Linked DNA regions of Homo sapiens. The protein of the gene in region 1 purifies or fractionates together with the protein of each later gene. This does not show direct contact. Each region holds a gene or a part of one and is shown in the gene's direction. Other genes may lie near its edges.

Region 1 (4,910 bases):
AAGACATTGTTATATAAGTTTTGAATAATTTAACGGGTATATTTTTAATATATACAAAAATATATGCATATATATGTGTGATACACAGAAACATATACCTAAAACTAAATGTAAATTAATACATTATAGTATAATTTAAATGTAAATAAATATAAATACTTACTTGGAAATGAATGTCTTTATTTCATTAAAGTACAGGTATGATTTCTTTTAAATCTAATTGAACTTCATTATTTGTTTCTACATTTAGGAAAACTGTTACTTTTTCTTACCTGATGTGCTCCCATGTTTAGAATAGTCCTGAACTTTGGTCTGTTTGAAGCTGTCTGTCAAGCTTCTAACTTGACATTAAAAATTACAATCTCATGAATTAATTAGGATTTCTTTAAGGTATTAAGAAATCTCTTTGCCTTTGCTTAGTTCCTGCTGACTCATTGAGTGTTTTCTTTTTAACTGTAGTTGAGTACTGAGAGTGCTTGTTTCCATAATGACTCTATGCTCTTTTTCTCAGTAGTTTTTATTAGCTGACTCATTTATGAGTAAGTTAATATAAATTAAATTATCATTCATCTCTGTAGAAAAATATTTCTTTACCATAGCTGCTAGTTTGCAATTCAGTAAAGACTGTTAGTATTTGTTTCCTAAGAGGGTTTTGCCTTTTATTCTAAAACAGCTATCTGTCTATCTAATAGATATCTCAAAATTGTTTATAAATAAACTGAATAAGTCTCCTAGATTTGTTCTTTGAAGTATTCAATATAATTTATTAGTTCTTTTTGGTGTTGTAGTTTTATCTCTGGAGGAACACAGTAACTTTAAACTTTAATTAGATATTAGAAAACTTTTTTGAAATCCCAGTTGGTAACCATAAGATCTATGTCACAGCTATCCGAGTATGCCAACACAGTACAAAAGCATCCATAGACAATATATAAATGAATGAGTATAGTTGTGTTCCAATCATACTTTATGGACATAGGAATTTGAATTTTATGTTTTTTTGACATATATTTAAATATTATTCTTTAAATATTACTATTTTAACAATTTAAAAATATAAAATTCATGCTTAGCTCACAGGCCATACAAAAATAGGCCTAGATTCAGCTTTGGCTCAAGGGTCCTAGTTTGCAGAACCCCTGCTTTAGATAATGGAAGCCTTAATTTTTTTAAGGTACGTAATTCAAAATCTTACAGGAGACATTGTCATGCATATTCCTCCTCCTTTCTCCAAGACACTTGGTTCTGTAACATCTTTTTCTCAATCTGTGGTAACTCATCAAATTGCCTCAGAACATAGCAGTACTCTGCTCCAGCTCTACTTCTCCATCCCGTTTGTCTTCGTTTCTTTGCCTCAGCTGGACAAATACATTGAGACTAACCTTTTTTCTCCCAAGATTGTAGTTATAGAATCATTAATTCTCTTTATTGTTCCCTTTATCTTTCTTTTATATCTTGTTCCTTCTCTCCCAGACTACTACTAATATGATTGGTTTTTTTCTTCTTTTTCTTTTTAGTTAACAGAACAGTATTTTCGTAAACTATTTTGAATGAAACATTTCATAAAGTATATTTATGGTCAGATAAGTTTGAAAATGTGGACATAAAATAGCTCCATTACACATTAAGCATATTAAAGTTTCTAAAAATTGTGAGTAAAAAAAGTTTAGGTTAGATGCAAAGGCTCATGCCTGTAATCTCAGCACTTTGGGAGGTCAAAGCAGGAGGATCACTTGAGCCCAGGAGTTTGAGACCAGTCTGGGCAACATAGTGAGCCACCGTCTCTACAAAAATTACAGAAACATTAGCTCGGCATGGTGTTGTGCACCTATAGTTCCAGCTATTCAGGAGGATTGCTTGAGCCTGGGAGTTTGAGGCTACAGTGAGCAGTGATCGTGCCACTGCATTTAGCTTGGGCAACAGGGTAAGACCCTGTCTCAAACAAACAAAAAACAATTTACATTTAATTTTAACCTAGCATTTCTCCACATATTTAACCACGGAATCCGGTTTTTGAGGCTTCCTATTCTTTTCTGTCCCATGCATGCTGGGAAAGGCCACGCTATAAATATGTGATGTCGGTGTTTGGATCTTTAAAGTCAAGTAGGACTTTTGGCCCTGCATGTATCTATAGGGGAAGTGTAGGAGTTTTGTTCATTCATTAAATTACAAGCCTGTTCTTAAATATGTGTGAACTGAATGTGTGAATGTAGGTGAGGATTTTGAGTAAAAACAATGAGATATTTTAGAACAGATGGTATTATTATGTAAAAACTCATAATAATATGACATTAAGTTGTGATTTTCGACTACTCAGTATGAAGCCTACAAGTATAACCCACTTAAAGAGTAACAGTATAGGTAAAAGTATGGAGTCAGCTAAAATGTTTGAGTACTTTTTAAAGCAAAAAATTACTGTCTTTATAGGAAAATAAGTTTAATTTGTCAGAAACTTTTGGAATACAGTTAATTGTTTATATCTTAAAAGTAGCACTAATTTATGTTTAATTATAAGCATATAGATAAATGTCTTGTGTAAAAAAAATCATTTCTGCTATAAATTTATTTCATTGTTAAAATGCCCCTTATCGGGAGTTAGAGCAGGCAGAAAAATAGACCACACTGCATGTTTCCCCTTGTCCTCAATTTGTCACTTTTCAGAAGAAACTTATCACATACCTGCTGAGAAGGCAGACAGGCTTTAGTCAAGGAGAGGTAGGTCATACAGAAGCTGTTATTCCAAGTAAGCCGGTCATGTTGGAGTTCTGGGGTACTGCTGTCTAATAAGAGATTTCTCCAAGATGGACATGTTTTATATGTGTACCATTCACTGCAGTAGCTACTAGCCATGTGTGGCTATTGAGCAATTAAAATGTGGCTAGTATGACTGAGGAATTTAAATTTTACTTAATTTTAAGTAGATACTTCTGGCCAGTGACTACCACATTGGACAGGACAATCGGGAACAAATTTCACCAGACCCAATATTTTAAAATAGGGACTTATTTACGGAAAATTAGATTGTAAATTGTTTATCCTTATGAAAAGACTCTTAATAGTGTACCTTTTAATAATACATTCAAATTATTTAATTATAATTAAAATCAATTTTTAAATATCAGAATATTTTGATAATAGTTTTTATTTGTAATGTTTTGTTCTGAAATACTTTTCTTACAGATAATAAAAAATATGAAATTATTAAGCGTGATATTCTCCGTGGAAAGTCAGTGCCACATTATGCTGCTATTGAGCCTGATGGAAATGGTCTAATGATTGTATCCTACAAGTCTTTAACATTTGTTCAGGCTGGTCAAGATCTTGAAGAAAATATGGATGAAGACATATCAGAGAAAATCAAAGGTAATTTTTATTCTTAATAGAGCTTATTGGTATTTTCATAAACATATATTTATGTCTTTTATTTTCCCAGTTAGGTTAATAGTTCTACAAGGGCAAGATAGATGCATAATTTTTTCTTTATTTTCTCATGTATTTTCCAGAAGTCTTTTATAAGGTATACCACCTTAATAGTGTGAATGAACTGGTTTAATTTGATCATTTTGTTATTACCAAAAATGTTTTTTTAAAAAATCGTTTATTAGCTTCCTTGATTAGGTGCTTAATAAATAGTTATCAAATAAATGTCTATTTGCTATTAGTATTGATGGTATTAATAGTGTAATATTGAAGATACTAATTTTTAAAAATAAGTTAAGCTAATGTACCTGTTCTTACCTTTTATACTAAACTGAAAGTAAGTTCCTTGAGGGCAGAATCACATAATTTTATTAATGTTGAATGAATGAATGAAGGTTATGTTTTAGCATGAAAAGACTGGCCAGGCACGGCAGCTCACGCCTGTAATCCCAGCACTTTGGGAGGCCTAGGTGGGCGGATCAAAAGGTCAGGAGATCGAGACCATCCTGGCTGACACGATGAAACCCCGTCTCTACTAAAAATACAAAAAAAAATCCGGATGTGGTGGTGGGTGCCTGTAGTGCCAGCTACTTGGGAGGCTGAGGCAGGAGAATCACTTGAACCCAGGAGGCAGAGGTTGTTGTGAGCCAGGATTGTGCCACTGCACTCCAGCTTGGGCAACAGCGAGACTGTCTCAAAAAAAAAAAAAGAAAAGACTAACAAGAAATTTCAGAAGAAATTTATATTTGTATATAAAGAACAGACATTCTTTTAAAGCTGTTCAAGAGAACATTCCTCTGTAATAATTACTGTTCATATTTCTGATGTTCATAGCCAGAGAATAGTATATTTTATTTAACAGAGATTTTTATAATATTTAACAATTCTACATATTATTCTTTGAATCTCCCTTTTTTGTTAAACAAGTTATTTTAAAAAATTAGTTTTACCTTTTTGTTTTTAAGTGAAAACACGTTGATTAAGAAAGTAAAGAAATAAAAGAATGGCTACTCCATAAGCAGAGCAACCTAGGTTTACTATTTTTGGATGCTTTAAGAAATGAATATTAATGTAATATATAATTGAAAAATATTTTCCACAGGTTTATAAATATATGCACCTCTGAATACAAAAAGTTGTGCTTAGTAGGCCTTTTCTTTAGACTTTTAATACCTTGGTTTTCTCATGTGGGATTCGTTTTTTGTTAGATTATCTCTAAGATCCTTTCCTGAATAAATGTTACTATTCTGTCTAATTATAATGCTAACCTCATCCAAAGCTTAGCCAGAATAGCTGTTTATTTCTCTAGATCATGTGTCTTTAGAATTCCTTTGGTAAGCAATCTCGAGGGAATAGAAAGCTTGCCTTAATCTTTGGAACCGTTCTGCCCAGATAACTTGGAACCATGCAGTTCCAAGACAGATTGAAGCCTAAGTGGGACACATCATGTGTTTAAATCACTACCACAGGTATTGTTTTCCTTGATGACA
Region 2 (4,910 bases), on another chromosome or scaffold:
AGAGGTACCATGATCTCTGCTCTTTCTAGGAGGGTCTCTACCTTTATCCTATGTGTATAATTCCATTCTGAGCAGCTCGGAGGAACATATAAGTCACGGTGTTTTCATATTTTATTAAAAAGAAATAATAACATTTGTATGGAATCATATTGCTAAAGCATGCAAAAGAATTGTACCTTATTCATGAGTCACTTTTATGGGTTTCAATTTCAAAAAGACTGACTAGGTGCAGTGGCTCACGCCTGTAATCCCAGCACTTGGGAGGCTGAGACGGGTGGATCACTTGAGGCCAGGAGTTCGAGACTACCCTGGCCAACATGGTGAAACCCCGTCTGTACGAAAAATACAAAAATTTGCTTGGCATGGTGGTGCACACCTGTAATCCCAGCTACTTGGGTAACTGAAGCATGAGAATCACTTGAACCTGGGAGGCGGAGGTCGCAGTGAGCCAAGATTGTGCCACTGTACTGCACTTCAGCCTGGGTGACAGAGTAAGACTGTCTCAAAAAAAAAAAAAAAAAAAAAAAGAAAAGAAAAAAAGAAACTAAGAGCTAATTCATTCAACAAATATTTATTACACACTACTTGTGTGCCAGCCACTGTTCTATCCTCTGCCTATACAGTGTGAAAAATATTCCTGCCTTTGGAGAGCTTAGCAGGAAAGATTGGCACTAAACATAATTATGAGGTGCTACATTATGAAAGGGAAGTACAAGTTTCCATGGGTGGATTTTCAAGTCAGAGACAACAAGAGCAGAGGTGAGGCTGGGAGTAGCCAAAGGTGAGGCTGGAAAAGGGAGGGAAGGGCTGGAGCACAGAGGATCTGGAATACCATCTTGTGGATATTTGCCTTCTCTTATCTTTTAAAAAGTGTTTTAATTTCGAATCTATTAAAAGATAGTTGGTCTTTTTTAAAAATTTGAATGTTGAGCTTTTATATTTTAGCCTGAGAATATACTAAAATGAGAAGTGATCTTAAAAATTGGATGTTTGAAATATAACAGAGTAGATTTTGTGGTTATTTTCTTATAGCTCAATTTGTGTATTCTTGTTACATTTTAAAGACACTGGTGAAGACATTTGAAGTATGTGATCTTCCTGTTCGAGCTGCAAAGTTTGTTGCAAGGAAGAATTGGGTTGTGACAGGAGCGGTAAGTAATTAATATGAATCTCTATTCCCATTTTCTGAATTGGTCAATGATTGTGTAAATTTGTTGCAGGATTTTGATTCCCGATTTGTTTTGTTATTTACAGCAATGTTTTGAGGCATAGACTTTATTCCTTGAGCCTGTGATATAGTTTTTTTGTATAATTTACTTGATAACAGGGATGATGGTTTTAAAATTTCTGTTTCTAGGATGACATGCAGATTAGAGTGTTCAATTACAATACTCTGGAGAGAGTTCATATGTTTGAAGCACACTCAGACTACATTCGCTGTATTGCTGTTCATCCAACCCAGCCTTTCATTCTAACTAGCAGTGGTAAGAGATGACCTTTTTTGGTCATGTGCGTCTCTTTGGGTAATTCATTTTCATTCACTGAGACATGCTATGCTTTAACTGCTGTTACAAATATAATTCTAATTCCAAGCGGCCTTTAAACTATTTAGATCCATTACTGTGCTATTGATGCTGCTTGTGTTTGTACTATAATGAAATATCAACTGTACTTAGGATTTGTGTAATGATTGCTCCAGTTCCTGTCAGAGAAGACCTACAAGTCTAGATGTTTAAACATCTGCTGAACAGAAAGGTCATTTACATGTTGATGAGTGAGTTTTTGGCAGATTGCCATAGACCCTATTCAGTTCAATCTTTATATTCAAACTAGTTTGCTCCTTGGTATTGTGTATAAATAGTAGACCTCTTGGAGGACTGGAAAAAGAGGTAGCACTGAATTAGTAATAGCTCTTTGAAATGTTTTTAAATTAAAAATTGAGAAGTAATTAAAAACTTTTTAAAAACCAATCTTGTGAGGGCAAATGCTTGTTCTCTACATAGTCATTGCTATCACTATTCAGTCATGCTTAGATCTAGTCAAACTTATATTACTCTTTGGCCATTCTTTAATGCCCACTGAATTTTTAAGTTTTTTCACAGAATTTTTATATTTTCTATTTCTAATCTATTTTATTTATTTTATCTCCACTTTTCTGTAGAGAGTTAAATTTATTTTTAAGATAAATAAGCATTTTGAAAACTCTATTTGGTTTTGATTCTATTTCTGTAAGTCATGGATTATATGGTTTGTGTTAGGTTTGCTTCTTCTAAAGACTGTGTCTTAGTTATGAAGTGAAAAAATAGAATTACAACTAACTTGAGACTTTCTTTTGGCCTAGATGACATGCTTATTAAGCTCTGGGACTGGGATAAAAAATGGTCTTGCTCACAAGTGTTTGAAGGACACACCCATTATGTTATGCAGATTGTGATCAACCCCAAAGATAACAATCAGTTTGCCAGTGCCTCTTTGGACAGGACTATCAAGGTAGGGCATCCACATTTTGTGTCAGTTATCATTATTAGTGAACTATACTTGCCTTAGGTGTTTTACTGTTGACTGGTCAGAAATGTACCCATCTTAAAAATTTTCCTCAAAAGCCTGTTTTGAAGTCAAAATAGGATTTCTCATTTTAATCCAAACGACATGTTCTGTTTAGAAAAATATTGTGGCAACTCAGTGCTCTTAATGAGGAGCGTTTTTCTGTGTGGAGGCAGCATGTTATAAAAATTTTTTAGCCTTTGGAAACCCAGAATAAGAAAAATGCCAATATCTTTTTAGGATACTACTGTCCTCTCCTTTTAGTATTCATTGTTGACTTCTGCTCATCGTTTATCTATTTTACATTTAAATTCCATATGCCTCTATTCTCTCTTTCTTACTCCATTTTACCACACTGCTGTCTGTTATCTTTCTGAAACAGTTCCTGATCTAAGGATAAAGTCCAAATGCCTTAGTGTGGAATACAAGGATTTCCAGGACTAGCCTGGGCTAATATTATGCGACATCTCCTAAAACCCTGGTCTACTCACCATCCTCTAGAGAGGCTATGAATGTTCACAAAACCTTACTTCATTGAACTGTTCCATCTTCCTGCACTTCTCTTTATTTTCCTATTTTGATATATTTTCCTCCGGAGAATTACTCAGCTTTTAAGGTTTAGCACAAATATTTACTCTTGAGAACCTCTTGTCAGACATCAACTTCACCTCTAGACAGAGCCAGTTATGCTTATCCCATTTCTTCCATTGCTTTTTGCCTCTGTTTCAGCCTTTCTCAGATTGAATTATTATTACACGTTTTTGGAAATCTTTATCCCCTGAAATACTGGATTTGGGGGATAGAAACTGTGTCACTCCCTTTCCCCAGCCATTCAATAGCAAACAGCAAAGTGCCTTACCTGACCTAGATGCTTAATACATGTTGCAGTGAGGGCAATCATGCTTCTTTTTTTTATCATAATATTTAAAATATTTCCATGCCAGGCACGGTGGCTCACGCCTGTAATCCCAGCACTTTGGGAGACCGAGGCAGGTGGATCACAAGGTCAGGAGATCGAGACCATCCTGGCTAACACGGTGAAACCCCGTCTCTACTAAAAATACAAAAAATTAGCTGGGTGTGGTGGCAGGCGCCTGTAGCCCCATCTACTCGGGAGGCTGAGGCAGGAGAATGGCATGAACCTGGGAGGCAGAGCTTGCAGTGAGCCGAGATTGCGCCACTGCGCTCCAACTTGGGGGACAGAGCGAGACTCCATCTCAAATAAATAAATAAATTAATTAATTAATTAAAATATTTCCATATGCATTGACTTAAAATAAATTAACTTTTGCTTACATGTTTGCTTTCACCTATATAAAACACTGTTAGTAGTTTTCCTTTATGTAAAATGTTATGTGTCTGAATATCTTAGGGTTTTAACCTTAGCTATTTTGCCTTTGATTGGATTATCCTTGCTTTTGACATAGATTAACTTTGAAATTAGTTGTAAACTTTTATTTTTACTAATTTAGGTTTATCTTGAGAACAATAATTGTCTTATCTTCAGTTCCAATAAAGTTTATTTTATACAGTAATTGATAAACATTTGTTACACGTTTATACTCCCCACAGGGCCTCCCATATAATAGGCACTCAATAAATATTTGTAAAGATAAAGCTTAATTCTGTGCTGTGGTAATTTTTAACAATTTTCTACACTTTAAATTGGTAATTAGGCAGTAATTTTCTCCTTTTAATAGGCCTTTATTTTTATTTATTTATTTATGTATTTTTGAGTTACGGTCTGTGTTGCCTAGGCTGGAGTGCAGTGGCATGATCACAGCTCACTGTAACCTCAAACTTCTGGGCTAAAGCGATCCTCCTGCCTCAGCCTCCTGAGTTGTTAGGACTACATGCGTGTGCCTTCATGCCCAGCTAATTTTTTACTTTTTACTTTTTTGTAGAGACAAGGTCTTGCTGTGTTGTCCAGGTTGGTCTTGAGCTCTTGGGCTCAAGTGATAACTTCCATCTCGGCCTCCTAAAGTGCTGGGATTACAGGTGTGAGCCACCACACCCAGCAACTTTTAATATATCTTACTAAATCTACTTTCATGAGCTGTATATTAAATCTATAATAAAATAATTTCATAACATCTAGATTCCTGGGCGTCACTGTGGATTGACTGACTTATAATCTCTAGAGATAAAGCCTGGAAATTGGCACTTCTTTTAAAGAACGCCATAGTGATTTTGCTCCCTGAAAATTCAAGTAAAATGAGAAAGAACAAAAACCAAACAGGATAAAAAATAAAATTTGATAGCTCTTCTCTCCTGGGCTTTGGCATTTTACATAATGTGTCAGAAATATGGTGGATTTGCCTTTTGTAAAGCAAGGCCCCATATTGACTGGCCGATGCTGTTTCTCT
Region 3 (4,212 bases), on another chromosome or scaffold:
TCTGGTGAGCTTGAGGGGAACGGTGGAGTGTATATCAAGACCATTTTGGTTCATAGGCTACATCTGCTAAGACTCAAGCTGACAATTATCTTAAGTCGTTCATCATTTCCTGAGATGAAACTGAGCACAGCTGCATTCACAGTAGACTGTTAGCTTGAGAAACTTCCCTAGAATTTGAGGAGAAAATGGCATAGTTTTGATAGACTGTTCAACAAACCTTAGGGGGATGCTGAATTTAAAGAGAGAATTTGAATACAAGGAAACGGTGTCTTATTGGGATAGGGGGTCCTAATGTATCATCATCCTCAGTATTAATAGCATTAATTGCTACTTAGAAAATTCACAAGGGGTGTTGGGGCCTCTTATAGTTGTTGCCCTAAGGTGTTCTTGTGATATTTTGTAAACAATGCTCTAGGAACACTTGGCAAAGGAAGGCTGCTTTGAAATTAGGTAAATAGATGTTAAAACTGAGTTTATTGATGTTGGTTCTTCTGACTACTGGGGAGAAGTCATTTTAAACTGGGGTTGTTCACAAGGCACCACCAGTCCCATGGAGTAAATTGGGTTTCCAGGAGAGAAATTGGAAATACCTGTATCCTGGCAATTGCATCATTTGCCTTTTTTTTTTTTTTTTCTCTTTTTTCTAAGAGATGGCATCTCCATCACCCAGGCTGGAGTGCAGAGGCATGATCACAGCTTATTGCAGCCTGAACTCTCAGACTGAAGCCATCTTCCCACCTCAGCCTCCCTAGTAGCTGGGACTACAAGCACATGCCACCACACCAGGCTCATTTCTTTTCTTTTTTATAGAACTGAGGTCTCACTATGTTACCCAGGCAGGTCTTGAACTCCTGAGTTCAAGTGATCCTCCCACCTTGGCCTCCCAAGGTATGGGGATTACAGTTGTGAGCCACCATACCCGGCCTCATGTTCCTTTTTATCATCATGTGATTTATGAGTGCCAGAGTACTTACTACCTCTAGCAAATAGAATTGGGTAAAAAACAAATGGTAATTGGAATCAGAGGATCTACTGCTTGCTGTCAGCATTGTTGCCATTTAATGAATGACATAGTTATGTAATTCGATTCATTTTGTCTATTCATATATTCATAAAATTGAAACAGAATTATAGATTTGCTTTTGGGAAAGAGTATGTATTTTAAGCATTTCCTGGTGGCCCTGAGTCTCATGTGAGTTCCTGTTTCAGGCTCAGGAAGAGGCCAAAGAAGCAGAAATGAGCAGAAAGGAGTTGGGGCTTGATGAAGGCGTGGATAGCCTGAAGGCAGCCATTCAGGTAAACTTGGCAGTTTGTTGCCACATCTTTAATGATCTGATTCCTACTGCTAATATTTTCTTTGGAATGTTGTATTTTGTTTTCTTCTTTTAAGACATAACCGCATACCTTCTATTTGTCCTTTTAAAGTGTACAATTTGGTGGTTTTAAGTGTATTTACAAAGTTTTACAATTATTAACACCAATTGTAGGACATTTTCACCATTCCAAAAAAACTCCATACCCATTAGTAGTTATTCCACTTTTCCAGCCCCTGGCAACCACTAGGTACTTTCTGTCTATGGATAATGTTGTGAAAGCTTGTGTTTTAACTTCTCAAACAGAGCAGACAAAAGGATCGGCAAAAGGAAATGGACAATTTTCTGGCTCAGATGGAAGCAAAGTACTGCAAATCTTCCAAAGGAGGAGGGAAAAAATCTGCTCTCAAGAAAGAAAAGAAATAATGGAATTTTTCTCTTCAAAGGTCCTTAGGTGTAAATTGATGCCATCGTAGGCAAGGTGCAGGCAGGATTTGAAGGCAAAAGTCAATTCAGCTCTTGAGAAAAGGTGTCTTTCCAGCCTGAATTTTTCAGATTGACTAGACCAAGCAGAATCTCTCAACCTGATCTTAGTATTTCCTAGAAAGCACTTGACATTGTGTGAGGTCTCACCTGAAGGAACTTGGTGGTGACATTTGGGAGGGTGGAGGGAGGCAGTGTCCTTCCTGACAGCACTTGCCTCCATGGATCTTCTGTACACAGAACTCTTATCTAGGATGTGGTTCTGTTCATGCTGCTTTCTGCGATGTGCGTGTCTGTTAGAATAGGCTCTCTACCCAGCTAGAACACCTTCCAGACACTTGCTGGACAGCTATCTTCCACATACTTCCCAGTTTACATTTGGTCTTAATGATCTTGAATAGATCCTCTCTTCATTTTACTCAGCCAGGTTTTGTACTGATGTACAGGTGTTAAATTACTTCAAGCATTTTTGTAAGAGGTGTATATAATTCAATAAAAAAGGTAAAACATGATGATTAAGTTCTGGGGGCTTTGTAAATGATCCCACTAAAATGTGACCTAGGAAAAATATGAATGGTGTTTAGGATGAGAGAAAAGGGGAAAACAATAGCCCTGGTCAGCTTTATAATAGAGAGCCTGGTTTCCCTAGCATGAAGAGATGTATGTTGTAGTCCTGCCACTGATTACTGAAGTCCTGCCATTAATTGCTGAATGTCTTCAGTTGGGCCACTGAGCTTGTCTGAATCTGTTCCCTTTTATAAAAGAGTTACTACATCAAAACAAAGAGTGAAATCCAAATTTGTCAAACTGTATGTATTAAACATGTCCAGTTTTTTGGTTAAAAAAAAATTGCACTGGCTTTGAGGGAAAACACACAGGGTGAGGGAATTGGGCTAAATGACTTCTTACAGGCCCCTTTCTGATTCTTTAACTTTGAAAGGCAAGCCATATTGATCCAGTTGTTATAGTGAACTCATGGTAATGGTTTGTGAGAACAATAGAGATTTTCATTTCTATGTAGATGAGTTGGTATGAGAATATATGGAATTTTTAAGGGACTGTTTAAATCTTTGATTTGTAGACTATTAAATATACCGTATGCATAAAGTAAGCCTTTAGCTCTAAGGTAAAGACGACACGTTTTCGGTTTGTGACTACAAATAGGTTAAAAATAGATTTTAATTTTATTAAAAATATAATTTAATGCAGGTTGTTTGAAGCATCTGTCTTCATATGATGGCATTAGAACACCTTGGTATAATAAAAAGTTACCGTAATTTATGATTATTTGAATTTATCCATTCTGAAAATTAATAAGATCTAAAACTGGCATGACAATCAAGATTTGTATTTAGTGAAATTTAAAATAAATGTAAGCCATAGTTAAAACTGTTGCTGCATTCATGAATGCCCTTAGGAAAAGGTCCACAGTAAAATCAGAAAGCTGAACCTCTCCTGCTGTTTATAGGATATGTTTATGCTGAATTAATTGCCAGGGTTTCTTAAACTTTTAGGGAATTATACTTTGGTGGCTCAATAGTAGATTCTACAAATTATTTTTAAATTGATTTCCTTTCCTTAGAGCTGCAGGAGAATATCTGGCAAGGTGCATTTAATATTTGGAAAAAAGATATGACCAGTAACCTACTTTAGGAAGAAAATAAGCATCACCTGGCATCAGGTAGGCATCGTAAGGTTGAGCTGTCCTATCTGAAAAAATATGCGATATAATTTATTACAGAAGTTACTTTATACTAATGCTTAACATTTATGTTTTTAGTTACACACCCCTTCCATTTTAATCTGCTGATAGGGTAGGACATCTAAAGAGAGTTTTAGGAATGACATCTATTTGATGAGGTCAGATTTTCAACAGCAAAATGACTTAAAACTGAGTACAACTCTCCAGAAATGAACACAGGCTGAAGTATTCTGAAGCCAGTGATATTGTCACTGATGATTTGCTGCTTTTTGTGTATGTGTGAGCTCATCAAATCCTATATGATTGAACTGATCATTGTTAAGAGATAACATGAGCAGTGATTTGGGTATTATTCACTGTTGCATCTTTGGGTACAAACTTGCCTTTCCAATGGGATAGGTTAATTTCTGCTGAAAGAGACAGTAACTGGAGATAGAAACAACACTCATGTCATTTTTGGCTGCTATGGTGTTTTGTTCTTCGGTCACTTGTGCCAAAATCACTCTTCATGAAGATGATTTCTAGTCGATCTTCTATACAAGCTCTGCATCACTTGATGACTGAATACTGCTTCATGAAATCTCGTGTTTCCTGCAGCCTGATAGATTCTTCTCATTTGCCTTATGGTCCCTGCCTGGTTCGAGAGACTGGTCTGCCTCCGCTTTGAGATTTTGTAGACCCATGTAACTGAGGACCTGTCAGATGACATAGAGT
Region 4 (4,910 bases), on another chromosome or scaffold:
CTAGTGGGGGCGTAGAAACACATGTAGGCTTGGTGGCTTCAGGCTGGACAGCCTAGGATGATCTGGTTTGTCTTGTCCTCCCTTTCCTACACGTTTCTGGTATAACCCCACATTTAGGTTTCTTTTTTAGTTTTCTGTTAATTGCCACTTCAAAACAGTTTTCTCTTGATTCCCAGAAAAGCTAAGTTTTTTCTGTCTGAGCTCAAGAAGTACTCCAACATTTCATGTCAAAATCAGACACCTGCTGGTCCTGCCACAGGACATGTGGGAATCTGTCATTCCTTCCACATCTCACTTGGTGCCTCCAGGTGCTAAACCGAGACCTTTCTCAGCTTAACACATAATATGGCTGCCATTGTTGGTTTCTCCTTCCAAACCTCCCACTGAGGGCAAAAAAACTCTTTGCTTTTTGCTTTCTGCTCATCCACCTGCATCTTCCCTCCCTCTGTGACCATCCATCTGCAGGGATTTTGACTGGAGGCCTGGGTCGGGGCAGGACGCCTGCATCTGACTGCTGCTTCTCCTCTCTGTTTCCCTGACTCAGAGCTTCATTTCCTCAGGCCCAAAGGGGAGGGATTGTTTTCTTTTCCTTTCCTCTTGTTGTCAGAAAGGGATTTTTATGCCACATCCTCTTCCTCCCGGACTCTAGTCTAATGGCTTGGTTTTGAAGGAAGACAGACTTCAGAGAGAGAAACTTAGGCGCCGCTATGAGACCGTAAACTAGGAGGCTGCTTTACAAACCATTATACCTCTTACACCCGCCCCTTATGGTCCTCATGGGGCCAACTCATGTCATCCCTCGGGCTTGGGCCTTGGCTCAGGCATCTTTTTCTTCCAAGAAACCTTTGCTGGGTCTCACCCTTCCTTGGTCATTCTTAGTTACCCATCTCAGCGTCTAGAGCACCCGTGAGACCTGTGTGGGACCTTGTGCTTGAGGCTTTGAAATATCTGGGTACTTTTTTTTCCCCTTCTCCATTGCTGGACTCAGTTGCGCAGAGGCATGGGTGACTCTTGTCTTGTCTCACTTTTGTTCTGTTAGTAACACCTAAAGCTTGTGACCCAGGAGAACTAGGATGGTAGCAGTAGGGGGAGCAGGAAAATTGACAGGGACAGAGGGAGTTAGTTGGTTATAGGTTGAATAACTTTAATTTTAGTTGTCAGTGTAATCTCAAATTTAATAAGAACGGTGATGATAATAGTAACATTTATTGAGTATGTTTTGTTCTGGGCACTGTACTAAGTGCTCCACATGCCTTATTTAAATGATTTCTCCAGCCCTGTGAGGACAATATAGTCCTGTTGTATAAAGGGATGAATATGGCCTAAGTACTATTATTCATATTATAAGCTTGAGATAACGGAGGCTCAGGGAGGTTAAGATAACTTGCCAAAGTTATAGAGCCAGCAGGTTTGGGAGCCAGAATTCAAACTCACTCCAGCTGAAGCTACGAGATTTCCTGTAGGTAATTGTGGAAGGATAGGGATTGAAATGGATAATTTAAAAAATAGATGAATGCTCCTAGGGACCAGAAAAAGAAAACCGCAAGGAAGAGGACCGAGCTCTGATTAAAGGATGGTTGCAACGTGAATAGACGGGTAAGACCAGCCTGGCTTGGGCTGCCCAGTCAAGCAGCACTCCAGAAGTCGCTGTTGCTGTTCTGCCGGCATTTGAATGGCTGCCGTGTCCTCTGTCCTAGGTGACTTGAGTGCCCTCCTCTCCGTTGCTCCCATCCCTGTCTTCCTGCTCAGCAGGACCCATATTTACTGCATTGTGTTTGCTAGGGCAGCTTCAGGAGACAGTCATGTTGCCTCCATTCTGTGCCTCTCTCTCCTGCCATACCATGCTCCCTGGCCTCCATCTTCCCCACCACAGGACTGTCCACCAGGAGCACCTCTGAAATGTGGCGTGGGTGCCACCAGCGTTTTTCCTCATCACGCAGTTTCTTGCCTTCATAAAGTGTCTGGCTTTCCATCGCAGGGCACGGTGCACCCTGTGACCACTGTCAGCAGTAGCGACGTGGAGAAGGCCTACCTGGCCTACTGTACACCGGGGTCTGACGGCCAGGCAGCCACCTTGAAGTTCCAGGCCGGAAAGCACAACTACGAGTTAGATTTCAAAGGTATCCTGTGCCCTGCCCTCGCCCAGCAGAGCCTGCCTGTGTTGGCTCTGTCCCTACACCTTAACCCTGGAGGAGCCGTGTGCACATACTGAGGGCCTGGGTGGGTACAGGAAAGAAAAGCAAGGTACCAGGTCCAAGGTAGACCTGGAGACAGATGACACTGGCCCTGTGCAGTGGAGGAAGAACTGCATCAAGGATGTGAGGAGAATGGACCCCAGGAGGGGCAGGAGCCCCAAGTGTGGAGGACAAGCAGGGTCAGCATGCATGTAGCATGGTTGTCCTGCTGTATCCGAGGACTAACCTGAGTCCCTGACAGGTGTCCGAGCAGCTCCGTCGTGCAGTGTCTGCCTTTCACTCCCTGCTGCAGCAGTGCTGCTGTCATCTTTTTTTTGAGACGGAGTCTCGCTCTGTCACCCAGGCTGGAGTGCAATGGCGTGATCTTGGCTCACTGCAACCTCCGCCTCCCGGGTTCAAGTGATTCTCGTGCTTCAGCCTCCCAAGTAGCTGGAATTACAGTCATGAGCCGTCACACCTGGCTAATTTTTTGTATTTTTCATAGAGACGGGGTTTCATCATGTTGGCCAGACTGGTCTTGAATTCCTGTCCTCAAGCGTTCTACCCACCTTGGCCTCCCAGTTTGCTGGGATTTCAGGCATGAGCCACCGCGCCTGGCCTGCTGCCATCTTTTCTGTAGGCGACTTTGGAGTTGATGGGTTTAACGGATGGTAGGACACAGAGTAATTGAAAGTCCCTGAGAAGCAGATTTTCGTGCACTCATGGTGTCCTGAGGCTGGGGCTGAAATGTTTCATCCTGGTTGCCTTACAGAGAGAAATAGGCCACCCTTTGGCCAGTTCCTCCAAGTGGCTGATGTGTGAGAATTTTTTTTTTTTTAAGTTTTAATTTTGTGTAGTTTCTCTTAAGCCATTTCCTCATGAGTGTATCGGTCCAGCTTTATTCAGTTCCGTTTTGCCTGTATTTCACATTTTAAACTCTGAGTCCTTCTGAATGTTCAGCATTTTATAAGGGAGTAAGTGGGCCTTCCTTTAAACACAGTTTATGGTTTTCTTTATTTTTGCAGACGTTTATTCTATGTGGAGTATAGTGAAGTGTCTGGTGAATTATCCTAAAACCACTTTGGCTGTCTGTTTCTGGCCTTGGTTTTGCTTGTGGTTTCGTGGCACTTGTGGTTTTGCTTAGGGTAGATCACTACCCCCTTGACATGCCCTTTACGGTGAAGTTTTTCTCCTCTAGAGTGCGAACTGCCTCTGCTGGAGAGCGCCAGCCACGTGTGGTCTGGTTTGCTTTCCACGGCCTGACACACACCAGTGCATGAGAGGGGACCAGTGAGAGCATAGACGTTAATCAAATCAGGACTGCCCTGAAGGTCAGGACTGTGTGGCAAGCATACATCTGACTGCTGCTGACAGCAATCTGGAATATTTCTTTTAAATATCTGGAAAATATCAAAACAGATAGAAATGTCAGATACTACCTTGATCATTCCCAACCTAGGCCACACCCTGGGGACATAACAGAACCTCATAATAGGGATGGGGAAGAGCACACACGTGCAGTTTATGATTCCTGCAGACTGACCGAAGCCCATTTGAGTGGGCACAATTCTTCTCCTTCTCCTCCTTCTCCTCCTTCTCCTCCTTCTCCTCCTTCTCCTCCTTCTCCTCCTTCTCCTCCTTCTCCTCCTTCTCCTCCTTCTCCTCCTCCTCCTCCTCCTCCTCCTCCTCGTCCTCCTCCTCCTCCTCGTCCTCCTCCTCCTCCTCCTCCTCCTTGTCCTCCTCCTTGTCCTCCTCCTCGTCCTCCTCCTCTTCCTCTTCCTCCTCCTCTTCCTCTTCCCCCTCCTCCTCCTCTTCCTCCTCCTTCTTTTGGTAGATACCAGTATCCATAAAAGAAGCTTGAGATGAATTGGCTTCTTCCCCCACAACTTCACTTCTAAGTATAAAGCAAGTCTCAAAGCAAACTGCCACACATATTTATTAGCTGTTTATTAGGAAGCAAGTACATTTAAAACACACAAAAGAGCCCAAATGAGTTGTTCTGAAGGTTTAGGGATGATTCAGTTCTGCCCTTTTAGGGACTCTTGTCATAAATGATTCACTCAAGGCAAATGCCAGGATTCCAGAGGCAGAATTCTAGCATCCTGTTAGGTGGTGTCTGACGGGGCAGAATTCCCCAAAGACAGGCTGTAGCCTAGGGTATCCTCTGGAAGGGTAAATTAGGGAAAAGACCTCACTTTACTGTGTCCATAGAAGGGTAGGGAATGTGTCTGACACACATTTAGCCAGTCCACGTATCTTAGCTCACTTTTAATTTCACCAGTGAAAGCCATTTAAGATTCATCACAGATGGCCAGTAGGCCAGTAACACCCATTTAAATATGCCAGTGAGAATGGTCTTGATGGGCGGCTGAGTAGTGGGTAACAGAAGGGGTCATGGTTGCTGCATCTGGATCATGGGCTCTGAATGAGAATGTGGATGGACCTCCAGGAATAGTGACCATCTCAGCTGCAACCTAAGAGACACACACTTGGATAACCATCCAGTTTATGCTCAACTGCAATAAGGCTAATTCTGGACACCTATAATTTTTAATATTAAAATGTTTTGTAAATGAAAACAAAATTAGTTGGGCATGGTGTCACAAACCTGTAGTCCCAGCTACTTGGGAGGCTGAGGTGGGAGGATTACTTGAGCTGGTGAGTTCAAGGTCCACTTGAGCAACAAAGCAAAAGACCCCATCTCTTAAAAAAAATGTAAGACTTGAGAGGGTTTTC

The links.
Region 2: the proteins of NUDCD1 (region 1) and COPB2 purify together in Homo sapiens (affinity purification with mass spectrometry; 2 studies listed by BioGRID and IntAct, with this or other methods). This does not show direct contact.
Region 3: the proteins of NUDCD1 (region 1) and DNAJC9 purify together in Homo sapiens (co-immunoprecipitation; one large-scale study listed by IntAct). This does not show direct contact.
Region 4: the proteins of NUDCD1 (region 1) and PARP12 purify together in Homo sapiens (co-immunoprecipitation; one large-scale study listed by IntAct). This does not show direct contact.

The regions. Positions count from the first base shown.
Region 1 is NC_000008.11:109,288,204-109,293,113, reverse strand, and holds part of NUDCD1 (nudC domain-containing protein 1), read left to right. Parts: intron 1-3,180; coding exon 3,181-3,363; intron 3,364-4,910.
Region 2 is NC_000003.12:139,375,621-139,380,530, reverse strand, and holds part of COPB2 (coatomer subunit beta'), read left to right. Parts: intron 1-1,064; coding exon 1,065-1,151; intron 1,152-1,357; coding exon 1,358-1,484; intron 1,485-2,341; coding exon 2,342-2,490; intron 2,491-4,910. UniProt on the Homo sapiens protein: The coatomer is a cytosolic protein complex that binds to dilysine motifs and reversibly associates with Golgi non-clathrin-coated vesicles, which further mediate biosynthetic protein transport from the ER, via the Golgi up to the trans Golgi network.
Region 3 is NC_000010.11:73,240,927-73,245,138, reverse strand, and holds the end of DNAJC9 (dnaJ homolog subfamily C member 9), read left to right. Parts: intron 1-634; exon of another isoform or gene 635-1,209; coding exon 1,210-1,296; exon of another isoform or gene 1,297-1,619; coding exon 1,620-1,739; 3' UTR 1,740-3,185; downstream 3,186-4,212. Other genes in the region: primary cilium assembly protein FAM149B1, read right to left, coding at 4,120-4,193.
Region 4 is NC_000007.14:140,034,925-140,039,834, reverse strand, and holds part of PARP12 (protein mono-ADP-ribosyltransferase PARP12), read left to right. Parts: intron 1-1,523; coding exon of another isoform or gene 1,524-1,592; exon of another isoform or gene 1,593-1,596; intron 1,597-1,873; coding exon of another isoform or gene 1,874-1,978; coding exon 1,979-2,120; intron 2,121-4,910.